Homo sapiens: one gene and its partners. The protein of the gene in region 6 purifies or fractionates together with the protein of the main gene of each other region. This does not show direct contact. Each region holds a gene or a part of one and is shown on either strand. Other genes may lie near its edges.

The links.
Region 1: the proteins of DACT2 (region 6) and IQSEC1 purify together in Homo sapiens (affinity purification with mass spectrometry; one large-scale study listed by BioGRID and IntAct). This does not show direct contact.
Region 2: the proteins of DACT2 (region 6) and MLYCD purify together in Homo sapiens (affinity purification with mass spectrometry; one large-scale study listed by BioGRID and IntAct). This does not show direct contact.
Region 3: the proteins of DACT2 (region 6) and PPP4R3A purify together in Homo sapiens (affinity purification with mass spectrometry; one large-scale study listed by BioGRID and IntAct). This does not show direct contact.
Region 4: the proteins of DACT2 (region 6) and SEL1L3 purify together in Homo sapiens (affinity purification with mass spectrometry; one large-scale study listed by BioGRID and IntAct). This does not show direct contact.
Region 5: the proteins of DACT2 (region 6) and ZBTB20 purify together in Homo sapiens (affinity purification with mass spectrometry; one large-scale study listed by BioGRID and IntAct). This does not show direct contact.

Annotation. Positions count from the first base shown.
Region 1 is NC_000003.12:13,062,425-13,067,713, forward strand, and holds part of IQSEC1 (IQ motif and SEC7 domain-containing protein 1), read right to left. Parts: intron 1-5,289. UniProt on the Homo sapiens protein: Guanine nucleotide exchange factor for ARF1 and ARF6. Guanine nucleotide exchange factor activity is enhanced by lipid binding. Accelerates GTP binding by ARFs of all three classes.
Region 2 is NC_000016.10:83,903,826-83,909,114, reverse strand, and holds part of MLYCD (malonyl-CoA decarboxylase, mitochondrial), read right to left. Parts: intron 2,129-5,289; coding exon 2,016-2,128; intron 990-2,015; coding exon 833-989; intron 1-832. UniProt on the Homo sapiens protein: Catalyzes the conversion of malonyl-CoA to acetyl-CoA.
Region 3 is NC_000014.9:91,482,811-91,486,310, forward strand, and holds part of PPP4R3A (serine/threonine-protein phosphatase 4 regulatory subunit 3A), read right to left. Parts: intron 2,921-3,500; coding exon 2,822-2,920; intron 1-2,821. UniProt on the Homo sapiens protein: Regulatory subunit of serine/threonine-protein phosphatase 4. May regulate the activity of PPP4C at centrosomal microtubule organizing centers.
Region 4 is NC_000004.12:25,855,478-25,860,766, forward strand, and holds part of SEL1L3 (protein sel-1 homolog 3), read right to left. Parts: intron 1-5,289.
Region 5 is NC_000003.12:115,136,288-115,141,576, forward strand, and holds part of ZBTB20 (zinc finger and BTB domain-containing protein 20), read right to left. Parts: intron 1-5,289. UniProt on the Homo sapiens protein: May be a transcription factor that may be involved in hematopoiesis, oncogenesis, and immune responses. Plays a role in postnatal myogenesis, may be involved in the regulation of satellite cells self-renewal.
Region 6 is NC_000006.12:168,316,232-168,322,259, forward strand, and holds the start of DACT2 (dapper homolog 2), read right to left. Parts: upstream 3,547-6,028; 5' UTR 3,403-3,546; coding exon 3,157-3,402; intron 3,126-3,156; exon of another isoform or gene 2,953-3,125; intron 1-2,952. UniProt on the Homo sapiens protein: Involved in regulation of intracellular signaling pathways during development. Negatively regulates the Nodal signaling pathway, possibly by promoting the lysosomal degradation of Nodal receptors, such as TGFBR1.

The DNA of each region.
Region 1 (5,289 bases), on a different chromosome or scaffold from region 6:
AGGTTGTCTTCTGCCCCAAGTCACACAGACACTGGGCAGCACATAAGGAGTTCCATCTGAGCAGCTCCTTGGAGAGGGGTGGGGTCCTGGCAGGGGAGGCACAGAGAAAGGTCTTGATTACCCCCAGATCTTGGACCCCACATCTGCTGAGCTCACCTGGTCTTGGAGAGCTCCTCTGAGGTGGCCTGACCTCTCTGCAGCCCAGAGATGGCCAGGGGACAGACACCCGAACAAGGAAGGGGGTTGGAGAGACTTGAGGGCATTTCTCTTTTATCTGATGGTGGAGAGCAAATGGGAGGAAAACGCTCGGTGTTATCGTGGGGCCAATGAGAGCCTTAAGATACAGGCAGTGAATTTCAGCCAGGGCCCTGGTGATTTAAGATGCATCACTTCCCTTAGTAACCATGCCAAGCAGATGTCAGGGACATCTTGATGAGGGATGAAGCCATCGGTGCCAATAAAACATTTTTCTATTAGCCACGCTCAGGTCAGCCGCCTGCTGAGCCACAGGGGTTGCTCTGACAGGACCTTCATCCTTCGGAGGTCGGGCCAGTGTGGCAAGGTCACGCCATGGGATATAAAGGGGGACGGGCATCTCTGGCGCAGCCCCAGCTCCTCAGAGCCCTGATATCCCAAGCTCATGCTCAGGAAATGGGATGCACAGGGGAGGGAGAGCCGGGACTCCTGGGCTGGGCAGTCTAGTGGGCAAAGCCTGGCCCCTCAGAGAGCCGACACCACGCCCAGCCTGGCTTCCCCACTGCCCTGTTCACTGCCCTAGTCCTGCCCACAACCTCACCAGCCATGTCCCAGCTTTCCTTCAACCAGTGACAAGTCAATTCACTGAAAGCTAATTCATAGAACAGTCAATTTGTAGAATGACAAAGTCATAAAAAGTACTTGCTTCCTTCCCTTAACCTTTTAGCTTTAGTTGACTGGTCCATTTTTGTCTTCAAAATGGCATTTGATGGAATGTTATTTGTCTCTGTCCCAGCTGCCCACTGTGGTGGCAGGAGGCACAGACAAGCATGGTGACTGTGTCATCAGGAATGCTGCGGGCACAGGGCAGAGGAGGGCAGGAGTGGCCGTCAGCAGGGCTGTTCTGCAAGCCCAGGGGAGCAGGAAGGCCCACCTGAGAAGAGGCCTGGGCTGGGGCTGGGGCCCCGGTTCTGGGAGGCATTGGGGGACAATGGATAAGACCTCTGCTCCATCAGCCAGCTGAAACCACTGCCTGCTGGCAGAGCAGGGTCTGAAACTCAGAACCCCTGGGGGCCAGCCAGGCCCCAGCTGGCAGCAAAAGGGACTTGTGTTTCCTTTCTGGGGTGAGGGGCCGGCCCCAGTGCCCCTGGTGGGATGCAGCCTTGGAGAGAAGGGCCCAAGGTGTCTCAGGTGTCAGGGAGTGGAGGGCAGTAGAGGTTGGTGACCATGGTGCACCACCAAGGAACTGAGACTGGGAGGTCACTGGCTGTCTGCTGTCCTCAATTACCAGGGATCTCAGCCTGTCAGACCTGATACCCACCCTCACCTTTTAAAAATTAAACTTTTTATTTTGAGATAATCGTAGATTCATTTGCAGTTGTAAAAAAAAAAAAAACAAAAAACAATACAGAGAGATCTTATATACATCGTTTCCCCCAATGGTAACATCTTACAAAACTATAGGATCCATCACTACCAGGATTCTGACACTGCACTGTCCTCCCATCTTAGGTAGCTTTCCGATTTTGCTTGTACCGTGGAGCCTGCATACATGATACGCCTGCATAGAACTAAACACACGCATGCACACACATACAGGCACATACAAGTGCCACCACAGTCAAAATACACAATAGCTCCATTACCACAAAGATCCCTTGTCCAGCACCCCGCTCCTTAAATCCAGAGCTTTGCACTATCCTCTTCTCTCTTCTCAAATGAAGCTGATGACTCATGTGATCCATCCACACACATATTTAAAACAGAACCAAGAGAATGGCTGAATGGTAAAATTACAGAGAAAAAAAAAGAGGAAAATAATTTAGAATAAAATAAACGGTAATTTGTCATGTTAATCGTGGGTGGGCCTACCCTATAGTCACCTGCCTGGTCGTGTGACAGCGACCACAAACCCAGATGGATGCTGGAGTTCACTGGGCACTCTGGCACCATGAGAGATGCTGTCCTTGGTGATGTGGTGCTCTGAATGGTGGCAGCTCTTGGCTGAGCTCCGAACATATCAGAGTCTGATCTTCCCTCGACTGCGAGAGCAGTTGCATTCCTGGAAAACTCAATGCATATTCAAATCATACAAAATGCATTTTGTGGTTTAGATGTCAAGAGGAGTGAGGACCAGACTCGGATAGTTGCTCGCAGATTTTCATGCCCATAAATATCTGTGTGGATTCTTGGTGTGGGGGCCTGTCCTGCACAACCTAGGCTGGCCCTGCTCCCACATGCCCTCTGGCAGCTCTGCCTGAATCTGGGGCCCACTGTCAAAGAGATGCTGATAACTGTGCCCAGGACTGACCTGGACGGAGAGCCAGCTAAGGTGACAATGATGAAGGCTTGACGCATAGGCTTCCTGGAGATGTGTGGGGGTGTTCATCTTGGAATGTTCAGGCCCAGTCCCACCAGCCTCCCTTCTCCTGCCTGGGGAAGACACACAGGGCTTGGCTTCCTTCATGGAGGCCCCACTGCAAGCAGCTGGCCAGGGCTTCCCATGGAAGGAGACCACCACCTCCTGCAGGGGCCGGCTGGTCACACATCCCCCAAGTTGAGCGTTTCATTGGCTCAAATCCAGAAACCACAAAACAGTGGTGGGAAAACTAAACTGCTCTGTGTCACCAGCTTGCTGAGGGAGCACTTCAATGATGAAGCACACATATAAATGCACAGAAATTCACCAAGGACCCAAAGGAACTGGACACAGCCGTGGCCTCTGGGCAGAAGAACAAGAAGCAAGGGAACCAAATAGACAATATGTGCAGCCTTTTTTTGTACCATGTGGATGAATAATCTCTCAGTTATATGACTATATTTGAAAAACAACAAAGACGTAACCATCCCTTTTGTAAGCTAAACTTCATCACTCACACTTTTATTCAAGAGGGGGAAATTTAAAAACACAAGATACCACTTCACACCATTAGGATGGCTATTATTAAAGAAAAACAGAAAGTAATGAGTGATGGCGAAGATGTGGAGAAACCAGGACCTTTGTGCAGTGGTGGAGGGAAGGTAAAGCAGTGCAGCTGCTGTGGAAAACAGTATGGCGGCTCTTCAAAACAGTCAGCATCCAATCACAATCTGACCCAGCAATCCCACTTCTGAGTATACACCCAACAGAAATGGAACCAGGGACTCGGAGAGGTATTTGCACACCCATGTTCACAGCAGCACTATTCACAACAGCCAAAAGGCAGAAACAACCCAGTGTCCATCAATGGGTGAATGGACAAACAAAATGTGGTCCATCCGCACAATGGAACAGTGTTCAGCTTTAAAAAGGAAGTTCTGCCCATTGCCGCAGCAGGGATGAACCTTGAGGACATGAGGCTAAGTGAAGTAAGCCAGTCAGGAAAGGACAAATGCTGTCTGATTCCACTCACATGACATCCCCAGGGCAGTCATATTCACAGGGACAGAGAGCAGAATGGTGGGTGCCAGGGGCTGGGGATGCAAGATGGGAGTCTGCGCTTACAGAGCACAGAGCCCTGTTTGGGAAAGTGAAGTTCTGGAGATGGATGCTGTGTTGGCTGCACGGCACTGTGAATGCACTTACTGCCGCTGAAATGTGTGTAATTAAAAAAGGCAAACATGTGGTCGATCTGCACAACGCAACAGTGTTCAGCTTTAAAAAAGGAAGTTTTCTGTCTATCTTACCACAATTTTAAAAATGGTGATTTGTACCTTGTCAGGCCAGGCCCCTCAGGGATGCTAGAAAGCAAAGGCAGGACTTCCGGGCAGCTGGTGACAACAGAGGGGCCGGCACTGTGTCTGTCACAGCGAGGACTCGCCACGCGCCATGCGGGAGCTCTATGAGGGGGCCCATTTGCCTGGGGGAGTCAGGAAAGAGGCACAGGCTGGGCTGTGAGGTCTGAGGTGAAGGGGAAGAAGGGCACTCCCGGCAGAGGAGCCAGCATGGGCAAGAGTGTGGCAGGGTGAGCCTTCCAGGCAGGGCTGGGCAGGAGTTGGAACGTTGTGGGATCGTGGGAGGCCAGGAGGACCAGGAGAGAGGGCCTCAGGCCCCAGAGCGGCTGAGGAGAGAGGGGTGTGTGCAGGAAGGGGCGCCCACTGCCCCACCCCGTTCTCTTCCCAGCTGTATCCAGGAGCCGCTCTGGCAGGTGCCACCAGGTCTTATTTACTGTGTCCCTTCTCTGGGCGGTAGCTCCATGCAGGCAGGGCGGGCCTGGTCCATTTACAGGCGTAGCCCACAGGCCTGGCGTGTGTCAGGACGTGGACTAGATGTCCAGTGACCATGGTGGGCTGAGTGAATGAATGGGTGAGTGATCGGCAGGATGGGGCCATGTGAATGAGCCAGCATGCCTGGAGCTGCTGTGCCTGGCAGACACCACTCCTCCCACTCCCAGTCCCCTGTGTGTCGCAGCATAACCAGGAACTTTCCAGATGAGGTCAGAGGCCCAGAGAGGGCAAGCAGCCTGCCCAGGGTCACATAGTGAGGCAGGGACAGAGCTGGAGTGGAGCCTCCTTGTCCTGCTCTGTAAGGCCCCAGGTGGGCCAGGGCCTCAGAGACCAAGGGGCAGGATATTTTCATCCACTCTGCCTGCAGGGAGCCTCCTGGGGGTAAGAGTGAGATTTGAGAGAACAGGAGCCATCCAACAGGCTGGAAAGAGCGGGAAGGGCAGACGGGGGCTGTGTCGTCAGTAGGCTTTTGGGGGAAAGCAGCAGGCTCTAAGGTAAGCCTGGGAGCAGCTTAGCCAGCACCCAGGAGCAACGCCTCCTAAGCCCCCACTGGTGGTGACAAAACTGGTCTGGTCCACAGGCATTGGGTGGGGGGCTCCCAGCCACTGTGGGACAAGTACCCTCAGCACCCAGGACAAGCAGGCTGGGGGCAGCCATGCCACAGTGGCAGTGACCAACACATTCCAGGTAGTGCATGCAGTGGGGAAGGGGTGGGGAGGGACAGAGCCTTGCGGCCAAGAGATCTGGAACCTGCTCAGGGTAAGGCGTCAGGTCCCCCAACACCTGGGCCCCCTGACCACCCTCCTTCCCTTCCTCATCCCATCTCTGTGCACTGGGTGCCCACTGGCCCCACCCACAAGGGCACACAGATCTGGCTGGGGAGGAGCA
Region 2 (5,289 bases), on a different chromosome or scaffold from region 6:
CTCTTTCACACACAAACATTGTAAGGGAATGTGTTTCTCCTTGGTGATCAGGAATGTCTGCTCATTTGCCCTACTCAGCTTCTCTAACTTCTCAGCAGGACACCTGCTTAGGGCACTCATCTTGTGATGGGCCATCATCCACTTAGCTTCCTAACAGCCACTCATGTCCTCTTGGTCTGAGCAAACCTGCAATGCCCCAGGGGTCTCATGCTCCCTGCCACCTATCTTTAGCACTCCTATTTCCAGACCCTGCAATGTGCTCCCTGGTTCTTCTGCCCCCACGGGCCTGCAGGAGTGTTTCAGACATTCTTGCCAAACTCATCCAGGAGCAGAGCAGCTTGCCACAGACGGGGCTATCAACCACAAGTCCCATAACCTCCACTCGCCAAGGAGTGTCCTCGGCCCACATCAAGCATAAGGGATGGAGTGCCTCTTTCAATTTTCTAATCAAGTATCTTTCAAAACTCCCCACAGGCATTTAACAAAAGCTGTAAAGGTAAACTATGTATGAATCAGGTATCTGTCCCTTCTTCCTTCACAATTATTTTCTGCCTCACAAACATGTTCTGTGATAGACTTTAACTGTATCTCAACCTAAGATCAACACAGCCAGATGAATGCTCGCCTTGCTCCATAACTGTCTGCCTGTTACACTTCTACGCTCTACACCTACAAATCTGGAGATTTTATTTAACCAATTTAAAAAAGCCCAAAACCATTTATTTAAAAAAAAAAAAAAGGAGGATAAAATCAAGTAAAAACAAAACAAAACAAAAAACACAAGGGGCTCTATGGGGTGCCCATCTTGTCCCGAATTGACCATCGCAGGTACCTGGATGTTGCTGGAGATGTCACCAGTCAGTGCCACGTGCAAAACGACCAGGGGCTCCCCAGGGGTCGAACAGTGAGAAAAGAAGTAACACCTTCTGTAGGGCCCAACGCGGCGCTTCATGTCCATCCAGTTTTTTACAGGATGCACAGCCTCAGCCCTGGGGCGGAATTTATAAAGAGACAAGACAAATGCATAATTCACAAGCAACGGCTGCTGACTCCTATTCATACTATTCGTCTAAGTCAAACAAGTTCTTTAAATAGAGCTTTAATGGACTCTTCTGGAAAATTCAAAGAAAGTCATTTTCATGAGAAACAGCACCCACTGAGAGGAACTACAGTGAATGACCATTTTACACACAAAATTGTGCTCCAGTTTTAACCCCAGTTTTAAAAGGAGTTTGTGAGGCTCCGGGGAAGGATTCATGCAGATTTTAACGTGAAACCTAATCAAACGCTTGGTGTTGAACACTGTCTTTTCTTTCCTTGGGATCTCTGTGAAGCCGTCAGTGCTGCAATCAGGGGGCTCATCTGGTGTCTTCCAGCAATCTCGCCCCACCGCTATTTTGTTTTCAGCATGTGAAATGGCAGCAGGCACTGTCAGCCCTTTGAATTGAATTGGTTACATTTCAAATAGGACACTTTTCAAACCATGGATTCCATGGGACAACATGTAATGTGAAGATGCCTACGTGCAAAGGTAGTGAAGGCACCGTGACATGCTAGCCTGTGTCATACGGGTCCTGGATGTAACTAACACATGATATAGTTTGTTTAGAGATTTTAACTCAGGGAGAAATCTTAACCACCAGGTGGGCTAAATACTGTTTTGATTACGAATGCAAACGCTTGGTCCAGTGAGTTTCTACAACTCTGATCACGGGGTCTTGGGACGAGCGAAAATGGGTGTGTTTGCTTTAAATAAGAGGACACAAATAAGACCTCACACGCAGGTCACTGACAGACATATCAGTTTCTCTTGGTGCCCTTTCGTCTTCCTCCATAATCTTAGTATCATGTGTGGTGACAGCCGCAGCATTTGCAAATACTGTGTTTGGATTTTATTAGACTTGAAATAAACTGTACATATGAATGGAGATAGATTAGCTTTTAGCCAATATAAAACATACACAAATATATATGAAAAATGTATGTACAAAGAAAATGAAAACCGTAATACTTACTCACTGATTTTCTGAAGCACTTCACACGGTGAATGCCAGGTAACCCGTTCTAGGTTCAGGAACCCGGAGGAAAACCATTCTGAGAGCATTCCTTTCAGCACCCCATTCATTTCCTGAAAAGGAGAAGATAAATCCCAGGCCTCCAATGTGCGACAGATCAAGCCCATCTCTGTGTTGTGGTCAGCACAAGGAATGAAAACACTCAAGCACGATACATAAGACAATTGTGCAAGACAACTCTCCAAACAGCTTTTCCCAAGATTCCTCTGTCAGACATCTTATCTCAAACCAAGTCAGGCTTTCTTTCGTTCAACGCTCTATTTAGACTTAACTACTTCAGTCTGTTAAGACCTCTGAAGGAAACAATTCAATTTGAACTAAGTTGCCCAAATCAAATAATATCTTCCAATTCGTTCACCATAGTGAGCATACTAATCATATAAAATCAACATAACAATGAAAGATGCACTGTAAGGGAAACACTAAGACAGCAAGGGTGTCAACAGCACTGTCCTCATCCTCTCGGGAACCTTCTTTGATACGTCAAAACATTACGCCTACATTTCCTAAGAAAGACAAGTACTTGGTTCAGGAACCCTATTTCATCAACTCAGAGATGTACATTTTCATATTTTAACATCTCTCAAGTCAGGATGCATCTTTCGAATGATGGCGGGTCACAGACTAATTGGCAGCATTTTTGTTTTAAGAGACGGGGTCTCACTCGGTCACCCAGGCTGGAGTGCAACAGCATGAACACGGCTCGCTGCAGCCTTGACCTCCTGGGCTCATGTGGTCCTCCTGTCTCAGCCCCCCAAGTAGCTGGGACTGCAGGTGAGCGCCACCAAGCCTGGATAATTTTTTTTTGTCTTTTTTGTAGAAATGGGGTTTTGCCACGTTGCCCAGGCTAGTCTCGAGCTCCTGAGCACAGGCAATCTGCCTGCCTCGGCCTCTCAAAGTGCTGGGATTACAGGCGTCAGCCACTGTGCCCCGCCGTAACTGGCAGCATTTTTAACCTACCTTAGAGGGACATAAAATAATAGCGTATCTGGCAACCAATGCATTTCAGAGTTGATGAAATTATCCTAATTTTGCCTCACTTATTTATATTGTATCTACTTCCAAAAATGATGTGAATTGACTTGACCACCCAAGATACATCTGCACTGAAGCTTTTCCAGCAAGAGCAGAACACAAGGCCCTGAGCAGGAGCAGCGTCGCCTCGGTGCTGCCTGCACAGCCACAGCTTGTTGTTCCCCGATGGCTGTACCCCTTTTCTTTCAAATTAACAGAAGCCTCACTTTTCAGCTAGGGACACAGCTGTCCAGAACAAAGATTGCACTGCGGCTGGGGGCAGCCATGTGACAGAGTTCTGGTCAATGAGGGGTAAGCAGAGGTCTCCTGCAGCCACTTTGGGGAACTTGAAAAGACAGCAGGAGCAGGCCCTTGGCCCATCTTTTTCTTTGTCCTTTCCACTGCAGACTGGAAGGCGGTGTGATGGCTGGCATTGGAGCAGCCATCCTGGGCCACGACGTGGCTTTGGAGATGAAGGTTTTTCTCGGCAGAGCAACAAGATTCAAGTCTGAATCCACCAAGAGCACCAAAGAGCAGAATCAGCTCTGGGCTGCCCACCTCTAGACTTTCACATGACAGACAAACTTCTGTCATATTCAAATCACTGTTATTTTGGGTCTTTGTTACTCATAAACTACATAGTAACAGATCCACTGAACATTATTATTAAATAACAGTAAACATCTCAGGACATCTGATACAAGAATGACCTTCTGAATCTCTCTACAAGGGTCATAAAGAACACAATGGGCAACACCTATAAGAATGGCTTTACAACAGCTAGAATTTTTTTTTTTTTTTGAGAGATGGAGTCTTCCTCTGTCACCCAGGCTGGAGTGCAGTGGTGCAACCCTGGCTCACTGCAACCTCTGCTCCCTAGGTTCAAGCGATTCTCCTGTCTCAGCTTCCAAATTTTATAAAACAATTTTACATTTTAATCCCTGTTAAAGGGTGAAAGGACTCAGAACTTTGACGCCTGAGAAAGAGTTGCAGGTTTTGGGGTGATGGCTCAGAGAAGTTTTCGGAAGGAGATGAGGTCTCCTTTTACATGTTTAAGCACTAGGGCACGAAAGAGGCCACAAATTTGTTCTGTGTGACCCCATGGGGGCCGGGGAAGGAAATCTAGGACTGACTGGTGGAAGTCATGGGCAGTCAGATGTGGACTCAATTTAGTGTAAAGAGGAACTTTTGAATAGCTGGAGCTGTCCACAGAGGTCATCCTGGGAGACGGTGACCCTCAGCACTGGAAGCCATCAAGCACAGGTGGACAGAACTCAACGGAGCTGTTTGAAAACGGATTTAAGCATTAGATAGACAGCTGGACCAGAAGATCTTTGCAATTCCTTTTAACTCTACATTCCATGACTCAATCTCCTTTACTTGGTTGTAAACGCCATAAAAGCAGGATCCACTTCTGATTCATTTTTATAGTTCGCAAAGCATTCACTAATAGATTGATATCAAATGAAAAAGATGGAAAAATGGAATGAATCGTGATTAGGAAGTAGCAAGAGGGCAGGATGAAAGAGATCATTTGCTAGGTGACACAGAATGGCCCTTTGTAAAACTGTACTTTCTGCATTTGACTATAGCAATTCTTAATCTTCCTGGGATCCTCTCACACTCTTACGTGCTAAAAACCATAGGCCCTGCCCCCAAAACACTGCAAATACATTAGTAAAATTGTGCATACGTTTTCCTGGGGTACATGGACTCCTCTGATACTTATCTATGGACCATCCCAGGGGCCAGGAGGGCTTCTGTACCCCAGTTTAGGAACGGATGAGCTGAGCTCTGCGTAAGAGGTACTGGTATCTGTCTTACATTCGTGATATGAAAAAAGCTGGAAATACCTAGTTTTACTATCAATTTAATATTAATTATGAAAGAAATGGTTTGGCTGATGAAAGCTCCTCCCCTACAGATCTCTTCATTCTATTTTGGGCTCCTGACAGCTACAAAATGTGACACTGGTACACGAGAACTGGGAATCCAGGCTAAAGGTTAGAAGTCTCCGTTGCTCAGTTCTAACACCGGCAGCAGCTGTTCAGGCTGGGATGAGCCACAGCACGCGGCAACGTTGCCAGGATACAAACACCACCAGGGAAAGAGGCCTCTGCAACTGTACGTGCGTTAATTCAGGCACCATTTATCACCAATACAAGACTGAGAAACACAACTGCGGGGAATATCCTGGTGA
Region 3 (3,500 bases), on a different chromosome or scaffold from region 6:
ATACTGACAGCCCAAACACAGGATTTAAAAAACACTAGGCAGAATACAAGTGTACCTACATAAAAATGAAGCCACATATAAAGTAAATACAACCTATATGTAGTAGAGTTATTCCCAAAAAAGGTCTGCTGAAGGTTAAGTAACCAAACCACGAAAATATTTTCCTTTCTACACACCCTAACCTGTAGCCTTCATGATCCCTCTAGGAGCCTGAAAATCTGTCATAAAACCTAATTTTATGCCACTGGAGGGGCTCTTATTATAAAAAGGTAACTTATATTGACTACATTTTAAAGTAAGGCATTTTTTTTGGTAACAAAAGGTCAAGGATAAACTTTGAAATGAAACAAATTTTGTTATCTTGGCCCTAGAATTTGGGACAGTGAACACTAAAGCAAGTAGAAGGCCAAGTAGAATGGTAAAGCAATGAAAAAAATTAGACCTTATATGGAAAAGCCAAGAAACTTAAATTGCTTAGCGTAATGAACAGATGCACTGATAGATACTAGAAAAGATGACGACCTGGAATACTTTTCTTGAAATGTGCTGCAAGGTGATATGGTCTTGACCTCAACCAAGTGGACAGCAGCACTGAAAGGAGGCAAGTCACATTCATGGCTTGTACCTGCATGGTCTCACACTGGCTCTGAATTTGTTAATTATGTAAGCTCTCATTATAGTTTTAAGTTCCTGATACCCAAACTATGACTTTATCCACAGAAAAATGTTAGATTTTGATTAGCAAACCAAATGAAAAGAGAGGAGTGCCCTTATTATATTAAGAATGCCATCTTTTTGAGTTGAGCAAATTGGTGAACATGGTTCAAGAAATAGAAAAACATTTAATATCTCAGAGAGCAAAATGTAATGACTTTCTTGGATCTAGAAAATGATTGAGAAGTTCAGACAGAACCCATAAAAAGAGTGACTGAGAAATGACACCTTGAACATAAACTATATAAAAGTTGAAAGGGAGTATCAGAAAAGAATATTAAAGCAGCTAGTGATAAAATTATTAAGATGATGAAAAACTTTATGATATTAAAGACCAAACAAAGGTAAAGATCAGACAATATTAAAGGAGAGCCAGGCATGACAATGACAAAGTGAGTTCAGGTTTGAGTTACACATTGGCATAAAGGAAGACTGTATCCAGAGTGGAAGTGTTTGATTCAGAAAGATGAGAGAGGAGAACAAGATTTGTCTGAATAACAGATGCTATTAACATAGCCTGAACTCATTAATGTCACCTCTCTCTCTTTGGGATAACACTACAAGACAAAATCTAGAGACATATGCTATAAATATAATTGTTGGATGGAAAGCAAAGAAAAACTAAAAAGATGGATGGTATTCAGATATAAATGTTAGTCCTTTCATGTTTCAGAGAAGGAAAGGGACAGCTTAACAGACAGGTTAATTTATGAAAAGCACAGCGAAGTAGAATATATTCTTGAAATAAATTCCATTAAGTCAAGGAAAAACTGTGCTAAGGACACTATATCTTCTATGAATGCTATAGCTGTCAAACTTTAGGGTGCATCAGAATCACCAAAAGCAGGGGGCGACAAACCATAGCCAAATTTGGTCTGCCACCTGTTTTTGTAAATAAAAGTTTTACTAGAAGACAGCCCCTCCATTCATTTATGTGCTGTCTATGACTACTTCCGAACTAGAACAGCAGAGGTGACCTAGCTGTGACAGAGACTATATGGCCTGCAAAGCCTTAAATATTTACTATCTTGTTTTTTACAGAGAAAAGTCTGGCCTATAGGGCTTGTGAAAACAGAATTCCTAAGAAAGGATTTTAAAAAACAATTATTGGACCCTACTTGCAGTTTTTGATCCAGTAGGTCTGGGGTCGGCGGGAGGGGTGCTAGTCTCAGAATTTGCATTTCTATCAGTTCCCAGGTCATGCTTGTGCTGCTGGTTTGAGGGCCACATTCAAAGGAATTAAGGAATCTGGTGAAGATTATTCTCTAGATAAAGTAAACATGGAGATGGAGAAACCTTCTCTAGAAAGAAATGGCCTAAGAAGTGTATAACAAGAGCCAACAGCATTAGCTACTAGAGCACATACAAATGCAAATTCACAAAAGATTGTGATTATGTCACTAGGGAAACTCCAGAATAAATTAAGAACATTCGAGCCTAGAGGCACGGTAAGGCTGAATAGTCAGTCAACAGCCATACTGCTCAAGACAAGTACAAGGGTGGGTTTTCTTTCAAAAGCCACAAGAAGTTATGAACAAAGAGTGATGTAATCAGACTTGCATTTTTAAAAAGATCACCTAATTGCTCTAGCTAAAATGTTGATTTAGGAAGATCAGTCAAGACAAAACCAATAAACCAGGCAAGAAATGATGGTGGCTTGGAAAACTACAAAAGTAAAAATGAAGATAAGCCAATGGATCTAGATTTATTATCGAGGGACTGAATGGATAAAAGCGATGATGGAAGGATAAACAAGATCCACAAGTTTCTGATTTCAGCAACTGCATGGCACTTAGAAGGAGATGGGATAGATATATGTGAGAAGATTATGTTTGGTTTTGGAGTACTAAATTTGAGATGCTAGTGAACATGAAAAGAGAAAGTTTCAAAAAGGCAGGTGGATATAAAACACTGGAGTTCAGCAAAGGTATGAGCTAGAGAGTTTAGTGTCAATAAATTACACCTTCCTTTAAATCAAGTTCAAAGACAGCAGTGAATTTAAAAGATCAATTTGAAATTTATTTAAACTCTTGGGCATTAGTTGAAAGCATGGCAAAAAACTAAACACTTAAAGAAAGCATGTTGATTTTTTTATTTAAAAAATTACCTGACATATTTTCTCCCAAATTTCATCACATCCAGCTTTTTCTTGAAAGCTAAGGGCCAAGTCATAATTTTCTGCTTCAGACCACACAATCAGAGTGTCCTTTGGAGACATAAAAGGAGTCTGAATGATTAACATACACTATCACAAACGAAAATGAACAAACAAAAGGAAATAAAACTGTGCTCATTTTTACTTTTTGCAACACTAATACTGGCAATTATCAATGTCTTTCTTTTTCAAAACAATGACTTTTTACACTTCACTTCCCCCAATCTATAAAACAAAAATAATGTTTCCTTAAGGACAACTTAAACCAATATATGAAATATATTCTTTTCATGCATTGCAAAAGATAAAAACAAAACATTATACCAATTATACCAACGCTATCCGAGCATACTGACTTACATTTTATGCTGTCATTAAAATGTCCAAAGAGGAAATCTAAGCATAAAATAGCTAGGGCATGTTAGGACGATAGGGTTAATAAAACTCCTTCTCTCTTCCCTCTATTGTCAGCAGGTGTTTTTCACCAGGGGCCTCTGAGGTCCATGAAGCCCTTGAAATTATTGGCTACATTTGTAGTACGTGAGCATTTACCTATACATAGGTTTTTTTGTTTTTTTTTTTAAACTTAGCAAAGTGCTATGGTTCAAGAAGCAGCAAACTCCTAGCACCT
Region 4 (5,289 bases), on a different chromosome or scaffold from region 6:
GGGCACGGTGGCTCATGCCTGTAATCCCAGCACTTTGGGAGGCCGAGGCGGGTGGATCACCTGAGGTCAGGAGTTTGAGACCAGCCTGGTCAACAAGGTGAAACCTTGTCTCTGCTAAAAATACAAAAAAAAAGTTAGCCAGGTGTGGTGGCGGGCACCGGTAATCCCAGCTACCTGGGAGGCTAAAGCAGGAGAATCACTTGAAACTGGGAGGTGGAGGTTGCAGTGAGCCGAGATTGTGCCACTGCACTCCAGCCTGGACAACAGAGCGAGATTCCGTCTCAGGAAAAAAAAAAAGCACTGGGCATGGGCATTTCTGCCAGGTGCCTCAGTGGCCCTGAGGGCACTTGCATATAAACCAAATGACTTGATCAGTTTTGAGTCCCCACTGCCTTCTTCTTATACTCGTAAGTTCTCTTGTAAGGGGCCCCCATCATTTCTCTATTTTTCTCCCAGCCTCGTTAATTCCTTCCAAAGAGCCCTTACCCTTTGGCACCTCATTGGTCCCTGGGGATCAGAGCTGAGCTGGGGAACTGTGAGGTCAGAGAAGGTGGCACCTTGGCACCCACCTTAACCATTTGGGGCAAACTTCTCCCAGCTATTTGGTCCCTCTAGACCTTTTCAGACAACTGCCCTACATTCTAGACCGTTTCCATTTCTCCACACCAAAAATACAAATTAAATTTTTAAGATTTCTCATCCCTCGACCCTCTGCTGAATTCCTGTTCATCTGGCAAGTTCATCCATGTTACTGTGATAATGAAAAAATACTGAGGTAAGGTCACGTATCTGTATTTCTACACCAGCTTTGTGGAGATAATGCCTTAAAAGCACAGTCTAAATGCACCGCAACTCTAAGCAAGATATTTGGGGTGAAGAGGGGCATCTGTGCCCCTCAAATTATGTGGTTTAGGCAGCTACAATAGATGTTCCACCTTGAAAGCAACATACTGATCCATTTTGCACGCAACAGAGCTGGGCCCTGAAAAATGCTTGAGCCCTCAAATATGTTTATACCAGATGTGAGCCCTCATCAAAGTCAAATTTGACAACGTCATGCACAGTCACAAAACACAGATTCTCTTGCTTTTGTGTAAATGTGCATGTATTGTAATTAAAAAAAAAAAAAAAAAAAACAAAGAAATGGGCCAGTTAATGTGTGTTCATGATAGAAGACCCCAAATAGGAGATCTAAATGCATTGAACTCAGCCTGGGAATCAAGAAACAGATGAATTTATGTATATTCTGGATGGAAAAATAAAACTATCAATATGACCTAAACTTCTTTTAGGATAACTGCATTTGATTCCTTTAAGAAAATCAATAAGAAGAGATGCTATTCAAATAACCCTCCCTTGCTCAAAGAGCTGAGAAAACTTGGCTTTGTTCTCTATCTGGTCTCCACTTGGTATTTAAGGAAGGAACAGAGAGATTGGGAAACTTTAAATCATCCACATCTTGCTACGGGAAGTTCATTGGCATGTACACATGTCTGTGGGTGGGTATGACAAGAAAACAATAACTGTTTTTCTCATTCCTGACCTTTCTGCCCCATTCTTCTAAGAAAACTGTGGCTCATGAGGGCTTTCTCTTCAAACTGGCTGGATCACATTTTCCCTAGATCAAAAAGGTAAGTGTCTTGCCTTAAAGGGCCTATTTTTGTAATTTCTGTCTACTAGATATAAGCAAAAATTCTGTTTAGGTCAACAAAGCATGCAATTAAGCAAAATGGATGATGATGTCAATACAGACTTCAAAATCAGCATGTGCTTAGGGAAGAACTTCCCAGTTGAGTATTATTCCCTCCTAAACCTGAGAGCTGGCCAGAGCCACACCATCACAGTCATGATCAATATTCCTGGTTGTGTAAGATTCTCCCCCATACTATTTAATATGCTGTTTCTTCCCAACTTACATCACACAAAGCTACCTAAGCTTGGTTTGCTCTTATTTCATTGAGTACCTACTGTGTACTGAGCACTGGGATGGGTGTGTTAAACCTTTTTCTCTCTCTGACTTCTAACCTCCACCTCTCACATGGGACCTCATAGAACTTCTCACTTCTAACCCAATCCTCACAACAACCCACAGAGGGAGACAGCATCCCACTGTTACAGCTGAGGCAATGGAATGCCTTCAGAGAGGGTAAGTAACTTGCCCAAGGTCAACCAGCTACCAAAAAGCAGAACCAAAATTCAAATCCACATTGGCTGACTCCAAAGCCAGGGAAGGTGTGCCTCTTGTCTTCTAACAACACCCAAAGATGATGCCCTCAACTCACGTCCTTGCCTTTATACACCTGTCACCGCTTTCTGGCTACAGGGTTGGGGAATCTCATGACTTTCCTTATTCCCATCTTGAAAGGGTTGGGGCTAAAATGCCATTATGCCGGCATGCCTTGAGTTTGGAGGAGACAGATATTGCCTTAACCACAAACACACAAACACCAGACTCAGCCAGCTCCCCAGTATAACTAAGCCCTTCTCCAGGTAGAGACTGGAAACAAGGCCTGCCAAGGCAGAATCCCATCAGCCATTCCTCATGGGCCGAACACGCCTCCTGCCCCTCGGCTCCTTTCTCAGGGGAATGGCATGAGCCATTAAACAGGGTAACTGAATTCACTTTAGGCTATTTACGGTCTACTCCAGTCTATCCATGTTTCCAGCGAATTGCCTGGGTTATTCTCTCCTACCTGTCCTCTAGCTCTGACGCTTTTGCCAACAGGCAGCCAGAAGAAATAGAAGGCAAGAGGCCAACACCATGGCTTGGGAAATTTTAGGAGCTCCAGTCAGGATGAATATGGAAGCTATTGGTTGATGTGAGGTTTGGGGATGATCTCTATTTTCAAATATTCATAATACCTCTCCCTCAAGCTAGATAACTGCAGATCTCTTTACCTCGTTTTGATCTTCTCATGCTCTGCATTGCACACATAGTGAGGGGTTAATGAATACTCTTAGATGGATGACCGAGGGTGTGTGGCCACTTACAGGGAATCCTGTACAAGGCTCTGTCACAGCCGCTGTCTGCTAACTGTCCCACATGTATCTGTTCTGTTTTTTTGTTGTTGTTGTTTTGTTTTTGTTTTTTTTGATTTTTTTGTTTGTTTGTTTGTTTGTTTGTTTTGAGACAGAGTCTCACTCTGTCGCCAGGCTGGAGTGCAGCGGCGCGATCTCAGCTCACTGTAACCTCTCCCTCCTGGGTTCAAGCAATTCTCCTGTCTCAGCCTCCCAAGTAGCTGGGATTATAGGTGCACGCCACCACACCCAGCTAATTTTTGTATTATTAGTAGAGATGGGGTTTCACCATGTTGGCCAGGATGGTCTCGATCTCCTGACCTCGTGATCCGCCTGCTTCGGCCTCCCAAAGTGCTGTGATTACAGGCGTAAGACACCGCGCCCAGCCTCTGTGCTGTTAATGTCCTCTTACTTCTTTGTCCTCAGTCTGATTGTCTAACAAGTGCAGCTATCCACTCCGAACATTTCAACTGACAGCTGACATCAATACTGGCCATCCTGAGATTTATCTTTTCATATAAGAAAATATTATACTTTGGAGACCAGAGCTTAGAACGAACAAAATTGTTTTCTGGAAGTGCCATTATCACAGATAGAGAGCTGGGGCAGCCTCAGGCTGGTTCTAGCCAAGTTGGAAGAAGGTAAGAGTTAATGGTGTAAGAAAATAGCAAGAAGGCCCGTTGGGCAGGGAAAGTTCTGCGTGGGGCACAGTACTCAGCACCCGCGACCTCAGTGGAAGCAATTTCATTATCTTTTGCTTTCGAGGCCCTCTCCCTCTCTGAGGAGGCTCTCTGCATCTTGGCCTTTGGTGACCTCAGAATTTTCTGGCAGCCACTGGAACCAGGGATCATCTTTTCAGAAATCTGTTTGGCATCGTTCCGTGACTTATCTTTCAGCCCTCATCACAATTATTCATGCTTTGGCAGTATCCTAGCTACAGACACAGTACTCTTTTTGAGCTGATACTGAAGGTTACTCCGTCCCAGCCTATGGAGACGGAAGGCACCCACTCCTCAGGACCCTGACTCCAGGAAGCATGCTCCCTGTGAGGGCAGGTGCTTAAAGGCATCTATTCAGAAGCTGCTCTCAACCTCCAGCCCTTGTGAACAGGCAAATAGGTGAAGATAACACAAAACAGGAACTGGTCCCCAAATCATAGGCAATTTGGCTTTGGAATGCATTCCAAGGCACATTTGCTGTACACTTGTATGCACATTCATCCAAACTCAAATGCTAAACTCTACCAGCTGCCTCTGGACTACATAAAAACCCCAAACCTTTATCTCTTCATTAACGATGGCAAATATTTTCTGGCTTTACCTTTCTTCCCCACTTTAACATCCTGCTTCTATTCTGTGGCCTGCGCTTCCTGCTTTGTATATTTTAGATTACTTTAGACATGACCTCACATCCTGGCCAATTGCACAGTAGCTGCTAATTGCTAGAGCTCTGCTAATGGCCCGTACATCGATGAAGAATGAGTTACAAGCAGCAAAATCCAGAAGACAATAAGCTAGTGTGGTTTAGAGCTGGGGCTCTGGAGGGAGACAGATTTGGGTTTCAATCTCAGACTGTATGGCCTGGGGCAACTAACTTAACCTCTCTGAGTCTCTGTTATCTCATCTAAATGGAGATTATAGTAGCTCCTACCTCAGAGGGCTGTTGCTAAGATAAATACTGGATAATGCCTATAAACGATTTAGCACAATGTATAGCACAATGTAAGCTATCGTTATTACCATGTAGGCTTTCAAATTATGAAAGACCTTTCCTCCTCTAGAGTCTACATATTCCTGGGATCCTGCCCAGCTATTCTGCTCCATCTCTACCCTGCACCTGCCCAGCCCCATCCCCCTGACCAACCACTTCCTCCAGGTAGCATTCCTTGATTGAGCAAAATGCACACAATTATACATTTGCGTTTTCTCTCTATTGTTTTATGTTTTTCAAGTGTTTCATATGGATATTTACATTTTCCCCAATTCTCACACCAAGCTTCTCCAAGATCAAGAAGCCTTGCCTTCAGTAGTATCTTGGGTAGTGTAGACCCAAGAGCAACATCCCTAGTAAACGGCTAGATCTTCAGAACAAAATGTGGAGACTACCTTTTAAGTCGGCCTTTTGTGTCCTTTGCAAAATGGCTCTCTTGTTTATCAAAGTCTGTCTTGTACAGTAAGCGTATCAGAAGTCCATCTGAAGGAAGCATACAAAGGCAGGAAGCACTGACATTTCCCCCCACCATGAGGTCCCCAAATCCATTCCTTCCCCATC
Region 5 (5,289 bases), on a different chromosome or scaffold from region 6:
CAATGCTAAATTTGAACTCCAATAAGTAAACGGATAGCCTAGTAAGGAAAAATAATTTTCCCAGGATAAGTACAAAAAAGCCTGATCAACATTGAATTCCTCCTGTGTGCCAGATATTAGGCTAAGGACTAAAGCTATAAAGATAAATAAAGCATGGTACCTGTTGTTAAGGAACTGCAGTTAAGTGTACTATAATTCTAAATGTTACCTTTCCTAAGTGATGAATGTCAAAGAATTTAAGTTATAAGTTAAACTGCATATAAAACATCACACTGAATCAAACTCACTTTACACCAGATGCACCCATTTGTGCATTATAAAACTCATCATTACACATATAAGACAGAAACAGAGTAATGCATACCCCAAATGACAGAAACAACCATTTATTTTTGGCTCTTATACACTTTGGTAATTCGCTTAACAACAAATGTTGAGACTGTAATGTAGAATATTTGAATCAGAAGAACCTAGAATTTTGTTCATTTTTCCCATACTGCTTTTCAGCTCAAATGACCCCTTTAACACAGTATTGCCTTGCTCTCAATCCCTTTCTAAAACAAGAAAGATTATTAAAAACATGAGTGTTCAAAGGTATTTCTCTGAGGGTCAGATGTATAAAGGACAGTGAGATACAAACAACATAGCTGTTAAGAACACTAGGTCCCACAGGCTATCAAAATTACAAGAACAACAGAGTACCACCGATGATGAACTTGAGGAGAAAGGTGCCATGCACTAACTGAATGTTGATAATTTTTCTAACTTTAAAATACATTTTTCAGTGATGTATCCATTTGAATTATATAAAATGATTATTATACTATACTTCTTAATGCATTAAAAATAAGAGAATAAAGAAAATATCAGATATTCTCATAAGGAACAGTAAAGACACATAAGGGATGGTATAGCAATTTCATTATTCTTTGACTGCATTCAGATGATACAGCTTATATTTGTAATATAGCTTAACAGTAAACATTATCTTTTGAAAACTTTTTAAGTTTTTAGTACCTTGTATACAAAGGGTATATGAGTATGTATGTATACATGACAGAAGTACTTGGTTGGAGGTCATTTAAATTATCTGCAATAAAAATTCACTTTAAAGGTTACTATAATTCCTTTTAATTCATGCATGCTGACTATACTAAATATAATCCAAAGTCATGTACACTGACTTTACCTGAACTGATTTGAGACTACTACTCTGATAGAAATGCATTTACACTATCAGATAAAATTAAATCTTTCTTTCAGTATAGTGACAAATCAAGGAAAAGTTAAAGTACATAATAAAAGTCTAGACTGTATTCCACTCAAAGCATAGTAGAGGCTGTTTTAAAATTCCATGAATATGGGAAGGAGGAGACAAAAGCTAAATTCCATAATAAATAAAACAAAATTAAGGTATATAATATTTTACCCCTCATATCCATCACATCCTCAAGAAAGTTAACAGATGTTTTCCTGTTTTTGAAAATTGGACAGCAAACAACAATGTAGATTATAAATGTTCCTAGAACAGTGATTTCCAAATTGGGTGGCACACAGTAGGCATTCAATAAATGGCTTACCACACAGATTGTGCTACATTGCATATCTTTGTCATGCACTTAAACTTACTGCCTAACTCTAGGTTAGGACTGATGATCATGTTTTTGTGCCAAAAGCATAGCAGTCTTTGTTTTCGAAACTCTCAGTGACCCATATTTAAGCCAGCTATTGGTTTCTGAAACAAATGTTAAGGGCACAAAGAACAAACAAACACAAAAGCCTTCCAAAGTCATAGGATTTGCTACCCTTTGAATATACTGTTTCTAGTCTCCCTCACCCCTATTTCTGCATGATACCTGGTTCTTGGTTATTCAGTCGGGTTTGATTTAGTTTTCCTTTTTGACCTCTACCTTCCCAGAACTTTCAGTAATACTTCCTTTGTCCTGCTCCTACCCATGATTTCCAAGGCCTGCTTTAACATGGTACCCAGCTCCACTGTTGCAAATAGAACTAAATCAGGCAGCAGTTAGAGTCTATTCATTGTACAACCTTTAGACAAATTCTCTATCATCATTTTTAATTCTAGACTGAAGAGTTATATTTTAAAAAGATTCTATCACAGCAACCATTGTTCCTACTTACAACTCTTTCACCTTGTACCCTTCTCTAGAACCTTCTCCAAATCTATGCCTTTCTGAAATAAAATTGCCATTATTAATCTGGGCAAGCACTGAGTTAAAATCGTCCCAGAATAGTGGTCTGATGGGGTGGTGATTAAGAGCTTAGGTTCTCCAGAGCTGTACTTGAGTTTAATTTCCCATGTGTTTTATACTTAGCTGTGTGACTTTGAACAAGATACTTACCCTTTCTGAGCCTTCGCATATCTTTAAAATTGGGATAATAAAGGTACCTGTCTCACGGGATTGTGGAATTAACTGAAAAAATGCAGATATAACCAATGACTGCAACAAAGTAAGATCTCAGTAAATGTTGGCTACTATTGGTGTTGGTGGTGTGATTAGTATTCCTGTTTAATACAAGGATAGAATGCATTTACTTTTCACTGTGCTTCCCACTAATAATTTTGCTAGTCTTTTTGGTACTCATGGCTTTAGAAGAGTTACAGTGATTCTTCAATATGTATACTGGGTTTCAGTTAACACTAAAACCAGCTTCCCTTAAGCACATTTAGAATATCTTTTCCATTATTTGCATGCATTGAAGCATTCATACCACCTTTTGGGTCCAACAATTGATCTAAAATTATTCTTACAATTTCTCCTGATTAGCTAGATGTTTGGTAAGCTAAAATAGCTTACCATCATCTAACAGACAGTATATTTTGGCTACGAGGTGATTTATAAAATATTATATGATCAGTACCAGGAACATCTGGAGCTGTGGGTGGATGTGAGGAAATGAGAGGATTCAGGATAGTATAGCTTCCTGCAGATTGCTGTTTCCATCTAAGGTAATGTTAGATAGCTTTAAGCCTTTCACTACCATTCATACTAGCAAAAAGGATGAGTCAATTAAACAGAAACTGAGAGTAAAATTTTAAATTAGAACTTTGAGGTTATCATTAAAGATATATCAAGTAGGTATATAGAAATTGTATATAGTTGTTTCTTTCAATATATAACAGGACAATATTTGCAAAGTCTTTTCTAACAGATTCTTTCCTAGTCAGATTTCTTTGCCTACCTTATCTTCCTTCCTATGTAAATCTATCTGTGCATGGATATAATATAAGATCAAAAACTAAATGCAGTAGTTAAAAATTACCAATTTTATAAGATCTGCATGGAGGTGGTTCCTGATTACTCAATGTATACCTATGTTTTGCTTAGAGAAGAGAATCACAAAACCAAATTTATCTTTTATCTTTGAATAAATGTATCTATCTATAGATTTTATAGAAATAGAAAAATGTGAGTTGATTCATTCTGTTGTTACCTGCATCCTCAATTTTAACAACTTTATGCTGCATGAAATGCAGAGTCAAGTTTACAAATTCTATTAGCAATACACCTTCCTGAGTTAAGATGAGTTGGCAAAGTATTTATGTAAACTAATAGATTTATTATACTTACCCACTATGAAAGATTATAAGTACTTAATATCATATATCTATACTTTACTAGTGTGCTATGTTAGAAAGCATGTATCATTAAAATTAAACTTTTATAAAAGACTAAAAGTGGAAAGCAAAGTCAAGTATTTTACATATACTGTTTCTAGGTGTCCTAAGCATCAGTTTCAGTAACACTACCAGAAGCTAAAATAACAATTCAATTGTTGAAGGAAACAAACTCAGATGATTAGAACTGAAAATGACCCTAAAAATGAAAAATCTAAGGTGCTAAGGTGGAGATCCGCATAGATTATGCAACATGCCATAGATCATGTAACTAATTAATGGCCGCAGTAGAACTAGAACAACCTCTACTAACTTCACATCTGAGATTTTTGACAATGTATAACAAAGAGTTGAATTTAATATATGAGAGATTGAAAAGGTAGATATTGTCCCCAAGTTAAAAATCTTTGGATGTAATTACTTCTACTTACTTAATTTTATATTCCTAAGACGACACATTTAAAATAGCATAAAACTGTAAAAACTCGTTAGAAGTAATGAAAACTACAAACAAAATTTATGCTTTATCTTAAATCAAAACCATGGAAAAGGCCATTTTCTTTTGTCTAAAGGAAGCCTGAGATTTACTGAAAATGTGTGTGAGTGCGAGAGAGTGTGTATGTGTGTGTGGTGGTGGTAGGGGTCTTTGTTTTGTTTTGTTTTGTAAATTGTTAGAGATTGTTCTATTAATAGTTTCCTTTTGTAATGGTAATCTGTGCTCCAAAATGAGGGCACACTAAAATGAATTTCTGATAATTTATAAAGCAGTGAAATACAAATACATTTCTAGAAACTTACTAATGACAGTAAGAAAATGGGTACCAAGAGTTTCAAAATTAAAAATCAAAATCTTTTTAATATTATGTTGAATTAGAACATCTTTTTAAAAGCCAAAAGTAATTGAAAAGAGATTAAATTGGTACACTCAACTCTCTAAACTGTGTGTATATTTTTCTTAAAGTGCATATCTGTGAGCTGACAGTAAAGACAGGCTGGCTGCTTTGTTTGACTATAGTTCTGTTTACCTCATACTGTCAAGAATGGATTTTGACACAGTATTAATATTGCTATTTTTATTGATATAATTAGCACTGCTATAAATAATTTCTTGTGCTGCCATATGTAAGTATATCATTACAATCAGCAGTATTTAGTGCTTTTCTTATATGACACCTTGAAAACAGACTGTTGGCCCAAAGAACAAAAGTGACCTCATGATATGGGAATCACTGAAAAAAACATTGCCCTGTCAATAGAGACTACTGTTTTGTGTATGACTTCACTAAACAAACTAGTTTATATTTGTTTGAAACTAAAGTTTCTCACCAATCTGCTGTTTCAATTTCACATCACACCATATTGTACCTAAAACAGGCAATCTGGATTCCTGTTGCTACTTTTTCTTCCCCCAAACAGCTCAGGAATGGGTTTGAAATACAAGGCTTGAATACATAAAGCAAAATAATTAAGACACCCAAAATTCAGAATGGGTGGGTGAAAACAAGTACACTTGAAACCATTTGTGTAACTACTAGTGGGTGGCCCACTGTGAGTTTTTGATTATATGAAAGCAAAATCAAAACATATTTTATCTTGCCTCTAGATCACATCAGCTGTGACAATAACCTCATCTGGACCTTGAATAGTTT
Region 6 (6,028 bases):
TTGAAGCCAGCATCTCGGCAGCACCTCCCTTCCCATGTGTGTAACACGTCTGTGGCTGTCGTGTGCTGAGCTGAGGTCACGCAGAAGCTGCGATTGTGTCTGGTGCAAACACACAACAGCATCTCAGCAGCACCTCCCTTCCCATGTGTGTAACACGTCTGTGGCTGTCGTGTGCTGAGCTGAGGGCACGCAGAAGCTGCGATTGTGTCTGGTGCAAACACACAACAGCATCTCAGCAGCACCTCCCTTCCCATCACGTGTGTAACACGTCTGTGGCTGTCGTGTGCTGAGCTGAGGTCACGCAGAAGCTGCGATTGTGTCTGGTGCAAACACACAACAGCATCTCGGCAGCACCTCCCTTCCCATGTGTGTAACACGTCTGTGGCTGTCGTGTGCTGAGCTGAGGTCACGCAGAAGCTGCGATTGTGTCTGGTGCAAACACACAACAGCATCTCGGCAGCACCTCCCTTCCCATGTGTGTAACACGTCTGTGGCTGTCGTGTGCTGAGCTGAGGTCACGCAGAAGCTGCGATTGTGTCTGGTGCAAACACACAACAGCATCTCGGCAGCACCTCCCTTCCCATGTGTGTAACACGTCTGTGGCTGTCGTGTGCTGAGCTGAGGTCACGCAGAAGCTGCGATTGTGTCTGGTGCAAACACACAACAGCATCTCGGCAGCACCTCCCTTCCCATGTGTGTAACACGTCTGTGGCTGTCGTGTGCTGAGCTGAGGTCACGCAGAAGCTGCGATTGTGTCTGGTGCAAACACACAACAGCATCTCGGCAGCACCTCCCTTCCCATGTGTGTAACACGTCTGTGGCTGTCGTGTGCTGAGCTGAGGTCACGCAGAAGCTGCGATTGTGTCTGGTGCAAACACACAACAGCATCTCGGCAGCACCTCCCTTCCCATGTGTGTAACACGTCTGTGGCTGTCGTGTGCTGAGCTGAGGTCACGCAGAAGCTGCGATTGTGTCTGGTGCAAACACACAACAGCATCTCGGCAGCACCTCCCTTCCCATGTGTGTAACACGTCTGTGGCTGTCGTGTGCTGAGCTGAGGTCACGCAGAAGCTGCGATTGTGTCTGGTGCAAACACACAACAGCATCTCGGCAGCACCTCCCTTCCCATGTGTGTAACACGTCTGTGGCTGTCGTGTGCTGAGCTGAGGTCACGCAGAAGCTGCGATTGTGTCTGGTGCAAACACACAACAGCATCTCAGCAGCACCTCCCTTCCCATGTGTGTAACACGTCTGTGGCTGTCGTGTGCTGAGCTGCAAACACACAACAGCATCTCGGCAGCACCTCCCTTCCCATGTGTGTAACACGTCTGTGGCTGTCGTGTGCTGAGCTGAGGTCACGCAGAAGCTGCGATTGTGTGTGGTGCAAACACACAACAGCATCTCGGCAGCACCTCCCTTCCCATGTGTGTAACACGTCTGTGGCTGTCGTGTGCTGAGCTGAGGTCACGCAGAAGCTGCGATTGTGTCTGGTGCAAACACACAACAGCATCTCGGCAGCACCTCCCTTCCCATGTGTGTAACACGTCTGTGGCTGTCGTGTGCTGAGCTGAGGTCACGCAGAAGCTGCGATTGTGTCTGGTGCAAACACACAACAGCATCTCGGCAGCACCTCCCTTCCCATGTGTGTAACACGTCTGTGGCTGTCGTGTGCTGAGCTGAGGTCACGCAGAAGCTGCGATTGTGTCTGGTGCAAACACACAACAGCATCTCGGCAGCACCTCCCTTCCCATCACATGTGTGTAACACGTCTGTGGCTGTCGTGTGCTGAGCTGAGGTCACGCAGAAGCTGCGATTGTGTCTGGTGCAAACACACAACATCTCAGCAGCACCTCCCTTCCCATCACATATGTGTAACACGTCTGTGGCTGTCGTGTGCTGAGCTGAGGTCACACAGAGGCTGCGATTGTGTCTGGTGCAAACACACAAACGACCTAAACAGACGGCCAGGATTTGGTCACTGGGTGAGTAAACAAAGTCTGTACACCAGCTACTTTCCTCTCAGGAGGCATCAGGGGCAGAGTTGGGGGCCCAGGTTAATCCCACACAGTCTACCACCTCCGTCTTCCACAAGGTCAGGAGATAACGGGGAACCTGGGAGGCGTCCCAGACACTGGACTTCCTGATTCTTTAATCCAGAAGGGTTTGCTATGTTAACAACCTGGCTGAGCGAGCGAGGCAGACGGTCATGCCGCAGCTTCACCTGGGCAACATTTAAAGGCAGTAACTTTTAACAGGACAGACTTAAATTTCTAATGTAAAAGAAATTTCACTTAGTGTAACAGAGGTAACACAAGTAAACATATCTTTCTCCAGCCTTTTTAGTTTGTCTTTAAGAAAATACAGCAACTACGAAAACGCTTGTGAGTTGTTTCCAGTAAGTTTAACAAAATCATACAATAACATAATAAGCAGAGGGGTAATGAGTGGAGTTCCTTTCATTGTGTGAAAGGAGGGGTTCAGAGCGCCCAGGGAGTGCTGAAGAGGGCCCGTGGCAGGGAAATCAGAGTCTCTCTCCTCTGGATCAGAGGACACGCCTCTCCTTACAGGTCAGGTCACATTTTAAAGTTGAAGAGGCCTTTGTCAGTTACATGCTTTCCCCCAATACTTTATTACAGTGACGCGACCTTAAGAAAAGTCAGCACATTCCTGAGGACAAGTCGGGGTGCGCTTTACCACGCGGACACTGTTGCCCCTAACCCAAGACAGCAGGGGGGACCTGGTCCCCGGGGGGGGAGTGATGCCAGGATCCCGAGCCGACCTCCGCCAGGGGAACGCCGGTCAGTGCCTGCAGGTCAGATCAGTGCTGTAACCCTGTAACGAACAGGGTGTCTCTCCCAAATCTGCCAGCTTCGGGATGCTGGCGTGGGTAGGCGCACATCCACGCACGGCGGAGCGCGGGCTGCAGCCCCGGGCAGTTTTCAGGGTCCTCACCTGTGCGCTTCACCTCTAGGCACCTGCGCGCGGGGCCTCCATGTCCCCCTCCTTGGAGACCGAACTGCATTCCATTCAAATCCCAAAGGACGTCCCCTCCATCCATCAGACACCCCCGTCCCACTAACACACAGTCGCTGCCGAAGGAGCAGCGCCTGTGGCCCGCACACCTCGCAGCCCCGAGTCCCGGCGCCCGGTCCTTACCAGCTGCTCCTGCAGCGCGGCCAGCGCCGCCTCCAGCTGCTGCTCGGGGCCGTGGAGGCCGTGGGGGCCGCAGGGCGCGGCGGGCGCGGGCGGGGGCTGCAGGGCCAGGGCGCCCCGTACCCGCTCCTGCTGCGTGGCTCGCAGCCCCTGCAGCTCCTGCAGCCCCGCGAACGCCGCGCGCAACCTCGCGCCCAACCTACGGCGGTCCCAGCCCGCGGACCCCGGGGGTCCGCCCGGCGTCCACATCTCCCGGGCAGGGTCCCGGCCTCCCGAACCCCACGAGCGGCGCCGGAGGCCCAGCGCGCGCGGATCCCGAGCTGTGTCGCGGGTCCTCCTGCGCCTCCTCTCTCCGCCCCCGGCTCCGCAGGTCGCCAAGGTGGGCTGGAATCTGTGGCCAGGCGCGGAGGGCGGGGTCTGCACGCGCCCCGAGGTCACCGCGGCCTCCCCCGGACCCGCCCCGCCGACCCCCCAGGGCCCCTCGCCGGCTGCGGGCAGGGCGGGCGCACCCAGACCCCGGGGCCAGCTGAGCGCCTCCGTGACTTCAGCGGGGAGGGCCAGCCGGGAGGAGGAGCCCGGGGGAGAGGGGCAAAGAGGCGCAAGTGGAACAAAGGCGGAGAAAGGCTTGTTAATGTTTTAAAATGTTTATAAAGATAAACTATTGGGACATTATCACATTGCAAGGACCGTGTTACCATTACAGACGCAGTAGAGATTTCAAAACCGTGTTACCCACGTTTCCCAATGGGTATCTGCAGTTTGGAAACCGCACCTCGCTTTTTTTTTTTTTTTTTTTTTTTTTTTTTTTTTTTTGAGACAGTGTCTCGCTCTGTCGCCCAGGCTGGAGTGCAGTGGCGCGATCTCCTCTCACTGCAACCTCTGCCTCCCGGGTTCAAGCGATTCTCCTGCCTCAGCCTCCCGAGTAGCTGGGACTACAGGCGCCTACCACCATACCTGGCTAATTTTTGTATTTTTAGTACAGATGGGGTTTCACCATGTTGGCCAGGCTGCTCAGCTTGCTTTTTAAATTTTTAAAATAATTGCTTAAGATGCAGTTCACATACCATAAAACTCACCTAATTTAAGGTGTACAGTTCGTTTTTAGTATATTAACGAAGTTGTGTTCACCACCCCCAAAAGAAACCCTGTTCTCATCGGTAGCTACCCCCATTCCCTCTCCTGCACCCCCACACATAGAACCACCACCCCGCAGGTTCTGGAAGTTCATGGAAATGGGGTCACACGCCAGGAGGTCTCTGTGGGGGCTCCTTTTGGTGAGCGTTTTCAAGGTGCGTCTGTGCTGCAGATTGCGTCAGAACTGTATTCCTTTGTGTGGCTGAATAATACTCCACTGCATGGCTGTGCCAAGTTTTGTTTATCCATTCATCTGCTGATGACATGTGAGTTGTTCCATTTTTTAGCTATTACGAATAACGCTGCAAGGACATTCCTGTATGAGTTTTTGTGTGGCAATATGTTTTCATTATACCTAAGAGAGGAATGGCTGGATCGTAGGTGACTACCGTGCTTAATCTTGTGAGGAGCTGCCAGGCTGCTTTCCAAGTGGAATCACAGCAGCCAGCGGGGTATGAGGGTTCCATTTCCTCAGTGTGCACACCAACCGCTGTCTTTAGTCCAGCAGATGTGAAGTGGTATCTCCCTGTGGTTTTGATTTGTGTTTCCCCGATGGCTAAGGACGTTGAGCATCTTTCCATGTGCTTGTTGTATACTTCCTTTGGAGAACTGTCTATTCAGATCCTTGGCCCATTTTAAAATTTAGGTTGTCTTTTCGTTATTGAGATGTGAGTATTCATTATACAATTCCCTTATCAGACATGATTTGCACTTCCCTTATGAAATACATGATTGACAAATAATTTTTCCATGTTGTGAGTTTTTTTCATGTTCTTGATAGTGTCCTTTGCAGCAAAAAATGTTTGTAATTTTGGTGAATTCCAGTGTATCTACTTTGTTGTTGTTCCTTATGCTTTGGGTGATCTAACAGAGCATTGTCTAATCCAAAGACAAAGTTTACAGCTATGATTTCTAAGATTTTGCTGTAGACTTAGCACTTACATTTAAGCCTTTGTTCTATTTTGCATTAATTTCTGTATATGGTGTGAGGTAGGGGCCCCTTCTTTTACATACCCAGTTGTCCTAGTACCATTTGTTGAAAAAACAATTCTTTCCCTGTTGAATTGTCTTGGGACCCTTGTTGAAAATCAGTTGATCCAGAAATCAGTTTCTGGTTTCTCAGTTCTGTTGCGTTGCAATATATGTCTATTCTTATGCCAGTACCACACTGTTTCAATCATTGTAGCCTTGTAATAAGTTTTGAAGTCAGGAAATGTGAGTCCTCCAATTTTTTCTTTTCCAAGATTGTTTTGGCTGATCTGTGTCTTTTGATTCTTTTTTCTTCTTCTTCTTCTTCTTCTTCTTCTTCTTCTTCTTCCTCTTCCTCTTCCTCTTCCTCTTCCTCTCCTTCTCCTTCTCCTTCTCCTTCTCCTTCTCCTTCTCCTTCTCCTTCTCCTTCTCCTTCTCCTTCTTCTTCTTCTTCTTCTTCTTCTTCCTCCTCCTTTTTGAGACAGGGCCTTACTCTGTTGCCCAGGCTGGAGTGCAGTGGTGCGATCTTGGCTCACTGCAACCTCCATCTCCTGGGCTCAAGCAATTCTCCTGCCTCAGCCTCCCAAGTAGCTGTGATTACAGGTACATGCCACCACGCCTGGCTAATTTTTGTATTTTTAGTAGAGATGGGGCTTGGCCATGTTGGCCAGGCTGGTCTCTAACTCCTGACCTCAGGTGATCCGCCTGCCTGGCCTCCCAAATTACAGGTGTGAGCTGCTACTCCTGGCCCGTGTCTTTTGATTTCTATATG